Linked DNA regions of Homo sapiens: region 1 is linked to region 2. Evidence: fine-mapped expression QTL. A gene starts in region 2. The other region holds a variant in brackets. All regions are shown on one strand. Distances are between the middles of the regions. Region 1 overlaps LOC105377109 (a long non-coding RNA gene). Region 2 holds the start of FAM3D (FAM3 metabolism regulating signaling molecule D).

Evidence for each region. PIP is the estimated chance that this variant, and not a neighbour inherited with it, causes the effect.
Region 1: its variant is the best candidate, but not a certain one, in a credible set for the expression of FAM3D in nasal epithelium (TOPMed, PIP 0.61).

What each region holds. Positions count from the first base shown.
Region 1 is chr3:58,705,634-58,711,009 of GRCh38, reverse strand. It overlaps LOC105377109 (a long non-coding RNA gene), which reads right to left. Exons shown (of 3, transcript XR_940879.3): 3 at 4,926-5,088. Among named protein-coding and RNA genes, the nearest start is that of FAM3D, 42 kb to the right of the region's middle. The variant TAAGC/C (reference allele first, on the strand shown) is at 3,277.
Region 2 is chr3:58,663,778-58,669,153 of GRCh38, reverse strand. FAM3D (FAM3 metabolism regulating signaling molecule D) reads left to right here and starts at 2,380. Exons shown (of 10, transcript NM_138805.3): 1 at 2,380-2,578. LOC105377109 (a long non-coding RNA gene) reads right to left here and starts at 4,521. Exons shown (of 3, transcript XR_940879.3): 1 at 4,221-4,521; 2 at 1,246-1,601.

The sequences.
Region 1 (5,376 bases), 42 kb before region 2:
TGTCCTGACAGGGTTGGAGGCCAGGGCTTGTTTCATTTTTGCCATGCTGCTTTCCTCACCACGTGATCTCACTAAATAATGGCACCATGCATTTCCACTGCCATCCTGCAAACAGGAATCTTTGCTAGCAGAGCGGCATGAATGTTGCTTCAACACAGTGTCTTGATGGTAAAATCCATTCACAACACCTTCCTTTCGCCTCAAATTTTTTCCCTTCAATTTGTTTGAAAAACCTTGCTCCATGCTTACGACAGCGCTTCACCATCCACAGGACAGGAAATGAACAGTAACCACTCAAAAATGCATGCTGTTTACTGTAAGAAAGGAGATGGGGTAGAGATGATGGCTGGTACCCTTGATGAAGCCACTTTTGGAAAGGCAGCCCCTCTAATCTAGCCAAATGCATGACTGAGACACCCTGGTAAACAGTGTGGCCTTTACTATCCCCTCTGCACACGTAAGATATGTGACCTTGGGTAAGTCACTTAACCTCTCTCAGCCTCAGTTTCCTCATCTGTAAAATGAGAATAACAACAGGACCCACTCCATAGAGTTGCAGGGAGTATTAAATCAGATACTAGGTATGAAGCACTTAGTCTAGCATCTGGCTCAGAGTAGGTCCTGGAAAAACAGGGACTGATAATATCCTTTCCCCTTCTGAATATCTAAAGGCTAAGAACTTGGCAACATCATAGCTAGTGAGAAGTCAAGGATATCTGGTTTTTTCACTGCAGAGTCTGTTCTAGTTATCATTATGATATGTAAGAATATCAATGAAAAGTCCTAGAGTTTAGGGTCCTGAGTTTGAGTCTTTTCTCTAACCACACCCTGGTATCACCTTTAGCAACTCACTGCTCTCTCAAGGCCTCAAAGCGAGTTACCTTCAGCAACTCACTGCTCTCTCAAAGCCTGGTCAGGGTTGCTTGGAGGCACACACTTGCTCTCCTACCCTCCAACCCCCTCCACAACCAGCTATGGCAGACATTGCTAGTCAATCATGGCACCTGGGGAGGACAGAGCCAGCAGTAGGCCTGCAATCCATTCTTTCCCTCTACAAGGAATGCTTTGGGAAAGAAAGGGAAGTACTTGATCAGATTTTCTTCTAAACATGCTAATAATGACAGACCTTCTGGAAAACACACTGACGGTATTTACTAGGGGAGAGTTCTTACCCATGGAATGATTTTGGCAAGGTATACCTGAGTGTCTGAGTTACTCATGGCAAACAAATGTGGGATCCATGGATTTTTGGGGCATGTCTTCCTGGAAAATGTCATATAACCTTTGTAATTTTTGAAATATCAAATGGAGATGCCTCATGATCAAAATGTGTCCGGAATTGGTTCCTTCCAGTGGGTTCTTGGTCTTGCTGACTTCAAGAATGAAGCTGCGGACCCTCAGGGTGAGTGTTACAGTTCTTAAAGATGGTGTACCAGGAGTTTGTTCCTTCAGATGTTCAGATGTGTCCAGAGTTTCTTCCTTCTGGTGGGTGCGTGGTCTTGCTGATTTCAGGAGTGAAGCTGCAGACCTTCGCAGTGAGTGTTACAGCTCTTAAAGGTGGCATGTCAGGAGTTGTTCATTCCACCCAGTGGGTTTATGGTCTCACTGGCTTCAGGAATGAAGCTGCAGACCTTCACTGTGAGTGTTACAGCTCATAAAGGTAGTGCAGACCCAACGAGTGAGCAGCAACAAGATTTATTGCAAAAAGCAAAAGAACAAAGCTTCACAGCATGGAAGGGGACCCAAGCAGGTTGCTTCTGCTGGCTGGGGTGGCCTGCTTTTATTCCCTTATTTGGCCCCACCCACATCCTGCTGATTGGTCCATTTTACAGAGTGCTGATTGGTCCGTTTTACAGAGGCTGACTGGTCCATTTTTACAGAGTTCTGATTGGTGCATTTACAAACCTTTAGCTAGACACAGAGCACTGATTGGTGCATTTACAATCCTTTAGCTAGACAGAAAAGTTCTCCAAGTCCCCACCCAATTAGCTAGACACAGAGCTCTGATTGGTGCGTTTACAAACCTTTAGCTAGACACAGAGTGCTGATTCATGCATTTACAATCCTTTAGCTAGTTAGAAAAGTTCTCCAAGTCCGCACCTGACCCAGAAGCCCAGCCAGCTTCACTTCTCAAAAAGAGCCCTCTTTTGTGTGTTTCTCCCACTGCCATTGCTTAGATTTCACTTGTTAATGGAGGAGAGGGCATTCTAATGTGGCAAGAGAGAATCTGGGGATCTTCACTGGGCCCTCTCTGTGCTTTGGCCTGTGCCTCACAATTACTAATACGCTTAAAATTGCCAGTACAGTTTGATACTAGATGAAATCTGATTCTTGCAAGTCTGATCTGGCAATGCAGTCCTTTGTGTTGTCTCAGCACCCTAGGGCTAAAGGTTAGAGCTGTACAGATTCTGAGAACACAGGTGGTGACCTCCTTGGGGCCAGGGTTCATATTGTACTCCTGTGTCCCTATTTCTACACACTGGATGTGACCCATAGTAGGTGCTAAGTAAACAATAGTTGAACGAGTGTTGGTTGTATTATCCTGGGAGTTGATTTTCGGGCCCCTGACTCTTCAGCAGAAGCATTCAATGATAACAACTCAGACAGGAGAGCAGGGGCAGGAAGTGGGTGAGGGGGAAGCCATGAGTAAAGCTGTGCATGTCCTCAAACTCATTTTGACAACTTTGACCCACACCCAGAGACTGCTTCAGTGTAATAGAGGGATCTGGCTAGTGTTGAATGCCCTTCTGAAACAGTTCCATCAGCTCAACAGATCTATTTCCTGCCATTGTCATAAATAATCCATATAAGAAGGATTGACATTGGTGATAGAAGCCTTATAATCCATCAGGTTGAACTTGAAAATTTTGTGGAAATGGCCAATTTTTAAAGCTTATTAGCTTTAAAAAATACGTTTCCACTAAGTTCACCAAGAATCTCTTATTAAGGAATAGGAGAGCTACTGAATATCATTTATTTTCCCCAATGCAGCTTAATAATTAACATGGGATTTTTTTAAGAGTCAGAAGCAGGTAAAGAAAACACAGACAAATTCTATTCATCTGAAATCTGCACATCTTTAATGGAAAAGACAAAAATACCAAACATATAAAAAAAAGAGAGAGAAGTTTCAGAAAAAATGGAATTCAACATTTATTGGAGAATAATTTTTCACTGCACTATAATAATTCATTAACCCCAGAATAAACCTAAAGTTAATGATTATTGTCATTATGCAGCAACATCTCACATTTTCCAAAGAAAAAAAAAAATCAG[TAAGC/C]ACAATGGTGTCCCCTTGGAAGCCTTTTAATGCTTATTTTTGGTGAAATAAAATCCATTACCCAGGAAAAAAAATGCCCAGTGCTGAAGATTGTGCTGCAGTCCAGGGCCTGGGTAGTGTCACACACCGTATTTCAATAGGAGAAAAGCCTCGAAATTGAATTACTGCCTGAAGATTTTGTGCGAAAGAGGGCATTGTCAAAGGACCTTGTCAGATCATATTCTGTATGTTTTATAAGGCATCTCATAGTATATGTTTAAATCTCACAGATTTTATGCTGGGACACAAGAGGCCTGGGGCTGGGAGCACTGAGGTGTTAAAGGACAGAGATACAGTGAAATAAAATGCTGTCGCTCCAGTCTCTGTCATAATTCTCTCAGCTTACAAAGTGATCTTAGAAAGAGAAAGAGAAGGAAAGAGAGAGTGTGTGTGCATTTTTTGGAAGGTAGGATTGAAAGGAATGTCTTTTTTATCTATTATTTAATTACCTTAATTAGGGTTTCTCAACCTTAGCACTATTGACATTTTTGTTACCAGAAAGGGGACCTGATCCAGACCCCAAGAAAGGGGTTTTGGATCTCACACAAGAAAGAATTTGGGGCAAGTCCACAGACTAGAGTGAAAGAAAGTTTATTAAGAAAGCAAAAGAATAAAAGAATGACTACTCCATCGACAGAAAAGCCCTGAGGGCTTCTGGTTGGCTAATTTTATGGTTATTTCTTGATTATATGCTAAATAAGTAGTGGATTATTCATGAGTTTTCCAGGAAAGGGGCAGGGATTTCCCAGAATGAAGGGTTCCTCTTCCTTTTAGGCCATATAGGGTAACTTCTGGATGTTGCTGTGGCATTTGTAAACTGTCATGGTGCTGGTAGGAGTGTCTTTTAGCATGTTAATGCATTATAATTAGCATATAATGAGCAGTGAGAATGACTAGAGATCACTTTTGCTGCCATCTTGGTTTTAGCAAATTTTGGCAGACTTCTTTATTGCATCCTGTTTTATCAGTGGAATCTTTGTGACCTGTATCTTGTGACCTCCTATCATCCTGTGACTACAAATGCATAACCTCCTGAGGATACAGCCCAGCAGGTCTCAGCCTCATTTTACTGAGTCCCTATTCAAGATGGAGTCACTCTGGTTCAAGTGCCTTTGACATTTTGAGCTAGATAATTCTTCATTAGGGAGTGGCAGTGGGCTTGTACCTATACTAGGATATATAGCAGCATCCCTGGCCTCTGCTCACTAGATGCCGGTAACACTATCCACCTCCCAGGCATGATCATCAAAAATGTCTCCAGACATTCCAAATGTACCCAAAGGGGGCAAAATCACCCTCATTAAAAACCACTTACTGGGCCAGGCATGGTGGCTCATGCCTGTAATCCTAGCACTTTGGGAGGCCGAGGCAGGTGGATCACCTGAGGCCAGGAGTTTGAGACCAGCCTGGCCAACATGGCAAAACCCTGTCTCTACCAAAAATACAAAAATTAGCTGCACATGCTGGCAGATGCCTATAATCCCAGGTACTCGGGAGGCTGAGGCAGGAGAATCACTTAAACCTGGTGGGTGGAGGTTGCAGTGAGCTGAGATCGCACCACTGCACTCCAGCCTGGGCAAAAGAGCAAAACTCCATCTCAAAAAAAAAAAAAAAAAAAGAACCACCGACTGGGGCCTCAAAGATTATCACTGGGATCAGGACATGAAGAGTAGAAAGGACGCAATGTCTCTGGTGCCCACTGCAGCTGGCTGTGTGCTCAATGTCTGCCCAGGAAGGAATCTGCTCTAAGCAGAAAATATGATCTGCACCTGCAGAGGGGAAAAAAAAAAAAAGTCAGTTTCCAGAATCTTTCTACCTGTGATGTCATTAAAATTAACTGTAGATGTATTACCAGACTTTCCTCGTCCCCTGCCCAGAAAAGAGAATTCAGGCTTGGGCCATGAATTAGTCAGGGCTCTCCAGAAAAGCAGAAGCAGCAGGATGTGTGTATAGAGGGAGAGATTTAATTTCAGAAACTGGCTTACATTATTATGGAGGCCTGGTAAGCCTAAAATCTCCAGGATAGACCACAGACTGGAGGTCCAGGGAAGAGTTGC
Region 2 (5,376 bases):
TTAGGATAGGGAGAGTAACCTGGATTATCCAAGTGGGCCCAGTGTTGTCACCGGGTCCTTAAAAGTGGAAGATGAAAGCATAAAAGAGTTAGAGGGAGATGTAAGGAAGGAAGAATTGTCATGGAGACCCAACATTGCTGGCTTTGAAGATGGAGGAAGGGGCCATGAGCCAAGAAATGCAGGTGGCTTCTAGGCACTAGAAAAGACAAAAAATGTTTCTTCTGGAGTCTCCAGAAAGGAATGCAAGCCTGCCAGCACCGTGATTCCAACCCAGTGAGACCCATATCAAGCTCCTGCCCTCCAGAGTGGTTAGCTTCACAGCTGTGTTATGAAGCTGCTGGTCTGTGTTTGTTTGTTACTGCAGCTCCTCAAAGCACCCCTCCTCAGAGAGGCCTTCCCTGACCACCTGCTGAGGAAAGTTCTCCTGGAATCACTTTCATGGGTTCTTTCACAGAATGTCTCAATTTTAAATGATTTGCTTGTGAAGGAGTTCCGAAGTAACTCCCCAAAATATGCCACTTTGAGACTTTGAACTGAGGTCACTTGGGGAACAGCAACTGCAGGGAGGGGCTTTCCGAGTTTTCCTTTTCTGTCTAAAGACAGATTGTCCAGAGCAAACGCAGTGGCCATGAATCTCCGCCCAGGGAATCTCATCAGCCGGAAGGACTGGCTCGTTTCACAGGAGTCTAAAGGTCCACACTACGTCCAGATAGCCTTTGTCACAGGCTGTCGTCACCTGTCCTGCTGAGGGCCCACTCCTCTTCCCCAGAAATCATTTACTCTCCACTACGGTGCTGACACCCCACCCCTCTCTCCCTTGTGAAGAGGGTATACAAGCTTCTAAATCTTACTGGGTGTGGGGAATTCCTTTTCTTTCCTGGGATGCCCCCATGCATGTGATAAATGTCTGTACCTTTTCTCCTGTTATTCTCCCTGCTGTCAGTTTAATTCCTGACCAGCCAAGGCAGCTAGAAGGGTAGAGAAAGCCATTTTTACTCCCCTACACTTGTGTGCTTATTTATATTGGAAGTGAGGGTCAGGAGGGCCCCCCTGAGGAAGTGACACTGCAGGTCAGGTCTGAACAAGACCCAGGCACCAGTTATGGGCAGAACCGTCCTAGCAGAATAAGGGAGAGCAAGAGGCAAGGAGATGGGACAGAGGACAGGACCAGTCCTAAAGCCAGTCAGAGTGAAGGAAAGCACTGCCTCGCCCTGGGATACATCCTGAGGGGGCCCACGTGCCTACCTGGGGATGGGCAGCTGGAACAGCAGAACTGGGGCCACTCCCGGCACCTCATCACACAGGGTCCGCTCCCTGCTCTTCCCTTGCACCAGCTCCCTGGGCATGCATCTTCATTTCCTGACCAGCTGCTGGACCTCATGCCCCTGAATATTCCTTCCAAGTGGGCCACACAGCCTACGGAAGCATTCAGAGTCAGCAAACAAGGGAGGAAGTTGCCAGGAGCCTGTGTGCCAAGGACCGAGGCAAGAACTCCTCCTAAGAGGAAAGCGCTTGGGAAAGAGACCATGATTTGTGACAAAGACTGGGAGTGCTGGATCAGGGGAGGGGGAAGCTGAGCCCCTCTCAGTGCACCTTGGGTCCTAAGGAGAGAGAAGGGAGACAAAGGCTGCATTCACCATTTCACTAAAAGTCTGCCACTGAGCAGCCCTTCTTTTCTTTCTCCGTCTTTCCCTTTCTCCACACCCCACCCCCTCCACCTTTAACCTCTAATTCAATATGCCCCACCCAAATCCAGAATCTTTTCCCAAACCACTTCCTCTCCCCCATCTTCCTCACTCTTGACCAAGAAGCCTCCCTTTTCCATCATCCAAGCTCAATATCTTGCAGTTGCCTTTGACCTCCTCCATCTTTCCTGTCCTGAGTTTCTTGCCTGGGTTCCCCTCTTTCCAGTCAGCCCCTCCAGCACCCCCCCACACTCTAGTCCAGAACCTCAAAGCAGGTGATCATCAGCTGCAGTTACTCGCTCTACCAGCCCCACACCTCCCAGCGCCTGGGGAGGTTGTTAGCACAGGGTCGGGTTTTTTGTAAGGTTTTTTGGCTGTTTTCGAAGGCAGATTGTGGTATCTCATTCCTGATTAAGTTGCTTGAATTCCCACCCAAACCTCCCTTGCCAAGGTCAGGATAGCTCTACAGGAAGGGAACAGGCATGGCCCTTCTCCCCAGGCCCCAGCCAGGCCCTAAGCCACTCCTCAGCCAGGCAAGACTTTAGACTCATTTCCTGCCCCGTGAGCACTTAGAATAAACTTCCTCCTTCCTTGTGAGATTGTTTAACAGGGCAGGGAGAGTTGATGGCAAACTTCCTCAAAGGAGGGGCAGAGCCTGCGCAGGGCAGGAGCAGCTGGCCCACTGGCGGCCCGCAACACTCCGTCTCACCCTCTGGGCCCACTGCATCTAGAGGAGGGCCGTCTGTGAGGCCACTACCCCTCCAGCAACTGGGAGGTGGGACTGTCAGAAGCTGGCCCAGGGTGGTGGTCAGCTGGGTCAGGGACCTACGGCACCTGCTGGACCACCTCGCCTTCTCCATCGAAGCAGGGAAGTGGGAGCCTCGAGCCCTCGGGTACGTCCCCCCAAGAATGGAAAGGGCTATGGTTCCAGGTACACATGATTGACAGAGGGGAAAATGGAGGTGGGGAGGGTGGGAAATAGGAGTGAAAGAGCCTGAGACAGAATGATGAAAGGAAAGAAAGAAGGAAACCACATAATCGAAGAGATTCCTGAGATCAGACTCAGGAAGGCAAATAGATTTCATCTGAGGCACCAGGCCTGATCAATGAAATTAGACTGTGATAAAAAGGATTCTGGGGCTGGGTTCGGGCTCAGGCAAAAGCATGCTATGATTGATTAGCTATGTCTGCCATGGGCACAAGAAGGAGCTGTAGGGCATGCCAGCTAGGGATTTGATAACCCACACTGCAGGGTTTTTTCCTTAACCACAGGGGCCCCTCAACATTTATTCTTTCATTCACTCATCTATTGATTCAAAAAAACACATTCCAATGATCAACAGTGAGCCACACAAATATTTGAAAAATGAATAAAAAAGAAAGGAATGTTGTTCTTTGGCCCCAAATCTCATTTTTCTCATAAGGTAATGATCTGAAAAGTTATGACAAAGGTGCATGGACTTGAGAGATTTTCTAGCTATGTAATATTGAGCTAGTCCCTTTCACTAAGACTCAGTTTCCTCATCTGTAAAATGGGAGAGAGAGTCTGAATATCCCCCATCAATCGCTGAAGTTCTCATTGTCTACGCAACTATGATAATCATCACTGAAGTACATAAAATAACATGTATGATGTGCTAAGTGCTCTCCATATAATAACACATTTAATCTTCCTATCACCTCTACAAGGAAAGCACCATGATTATTCCCACTCTGCAGACGGAGAGCCAAGGCAGTGAGAGATTTAATAACTTCCCCAGGCAATCTGGCTGCAAAGCTTTTGCTCCTGCCCACTATGCCACACTGACTCTACACTGCAGTGGATTCTGAGTCCATGGCTGGAAGTGGGCTGCCTGGGTACAAGAGTGTCCTTCTAGATGATTCATCCAGTGAGCATTAATTGGGTCAGGTAAAAAAGACACAATGATTAACAAGATGAGGTATCATACATGGTTCTAACCAGAAAGGGAAAACTTGCACAGATAGTCATTTTCAAAACAGTTTGACATACACCATGGAGATAGCCTGGGAGTCAGGGCAGACTTCTCCCAAGAGAATGCCGGGTCCTTCAGGAGTGAAGGGCAGGGGAGGAAAAGATTGGGTCAGTGGAGAATCTCTGAGAAGGGGGAACAGGAGGAAAGAAAGAGGAGGGCAGAGCAGCTCAAGCAGGAAAGGGGTAGTAGCTGGTGGTGGAAGGTGAAGTCAGTGAGGTTGTTGCGCCCAGGTCTGCACAGGCTAGGGAGGAGTTTGCCATTGCTCAGCATCTGCCCAAATCTGTGCATCTGCCTGTCTGCCCTTGGGCACCTGGAGGTTTAGGGGCTTCTGTCTTATGGCCATGGTGTGCACACCTCTTCCTGAGCTCAACTCCATCTTTACACACAGACCCTGCTGCTTCCCATAGGAATGTTGAAGCCTCCAGAACCCAGGGGCCTAACTTCCTCATTGGCACTTCCCTGCGGTGGGGGATGCTCGAAGTCATCATTTGCCAACATTTCCTGGTGCTGGGGCAGCTGCTCCCCCTTGGAGGAGACCTACCTGTCTACTACTGGCAGTCCTGGTGAGACTTCAAGTGGGCAGCCGACAAGCCTGCCTGGGGGACTGGCAGCCCCCACCCAGCCTGCAGTCCCAGAGGGCAGGTGCCCTGGAGCGGAGCAGACATTTCCTACAGTTGGTGCCAATCCCTTGCTTCTGGAGGCTCAGAGGTTTGCTCCCCCAAGGGTGTGGCCTGGGGAGACAAAGACATAGAGGTTGTGGGGAGAGCAACCCTGCCTTTGGCATTTGAATCCCAGTTCTGCCCTTTTTCCAACCATGTGACCTTAGGCAAGTTGCCTATCTTATTGGCTTGTCTGACCCTCCCTTATCTCAAAAGAATGAGGACGGTAATAAGTTCTTTGGGATTTGACAGTGTGCATTTTGAAAAAGACAATGTGTGCAAAGCATCTACCATGATGCTTGCCACGTAGTAGGTGCACAATATAGGACAGTGCTGTTGTCCAAGCTGTGCACCTTCTATGCACCAGGCAGTCTGCATGGAACTGGGCATTCAGAAATGATTAGACACTGTCTCAGGAAGTTCACAGCCTATCAGATAAATTAGTCACATCAATGATTGAGAGTAAAAGGAGTCAGGGACTGCACTGTACAAGAGATGTGAACAAGTTCTACGTAATCAGTACAAACAGCAGTCCCAAAACTGGGCAACGCATATGGAGGGTTGACTGTGTCTATAGAATGGTGCCAAGTACTGTACATGGATTAGCTGGTTTAAATACAATAACTTTGCATGGGAGGTCTTATCATCCCCATTTTGCAGTGAACTACTGAGGCCTAAGGAGGTGAGGTAACCTGCCCAAGGTGGCAAGGCTATGAACGGTAGAGAGAAGCTTTATGGCCAGGCAGTCCAGCTCCAGGATCCATGCTGTTGGCCACCACACTCCTCTCCCTCCGACATGCACACACATCGCAGAGGGAATGATCTAGGCCTGCACAGGCTGCAGAAGGGGGACCTCACAAAGGAGGCCACATTCCACAAAGTATGGAATTCCTCTGGCGAGGACAGGTGAGGGCAGCCCTGGTGGAGAAATCCCTGTGAGCAGAGGCATGGAGCTGGGAGCTGGGAGCTGGGAGTCACCCAGCAGGGCCGGGGAGAGGCTGGGAGCCAGGCACAAAACCAAGGCCTTGGACCTTTCTG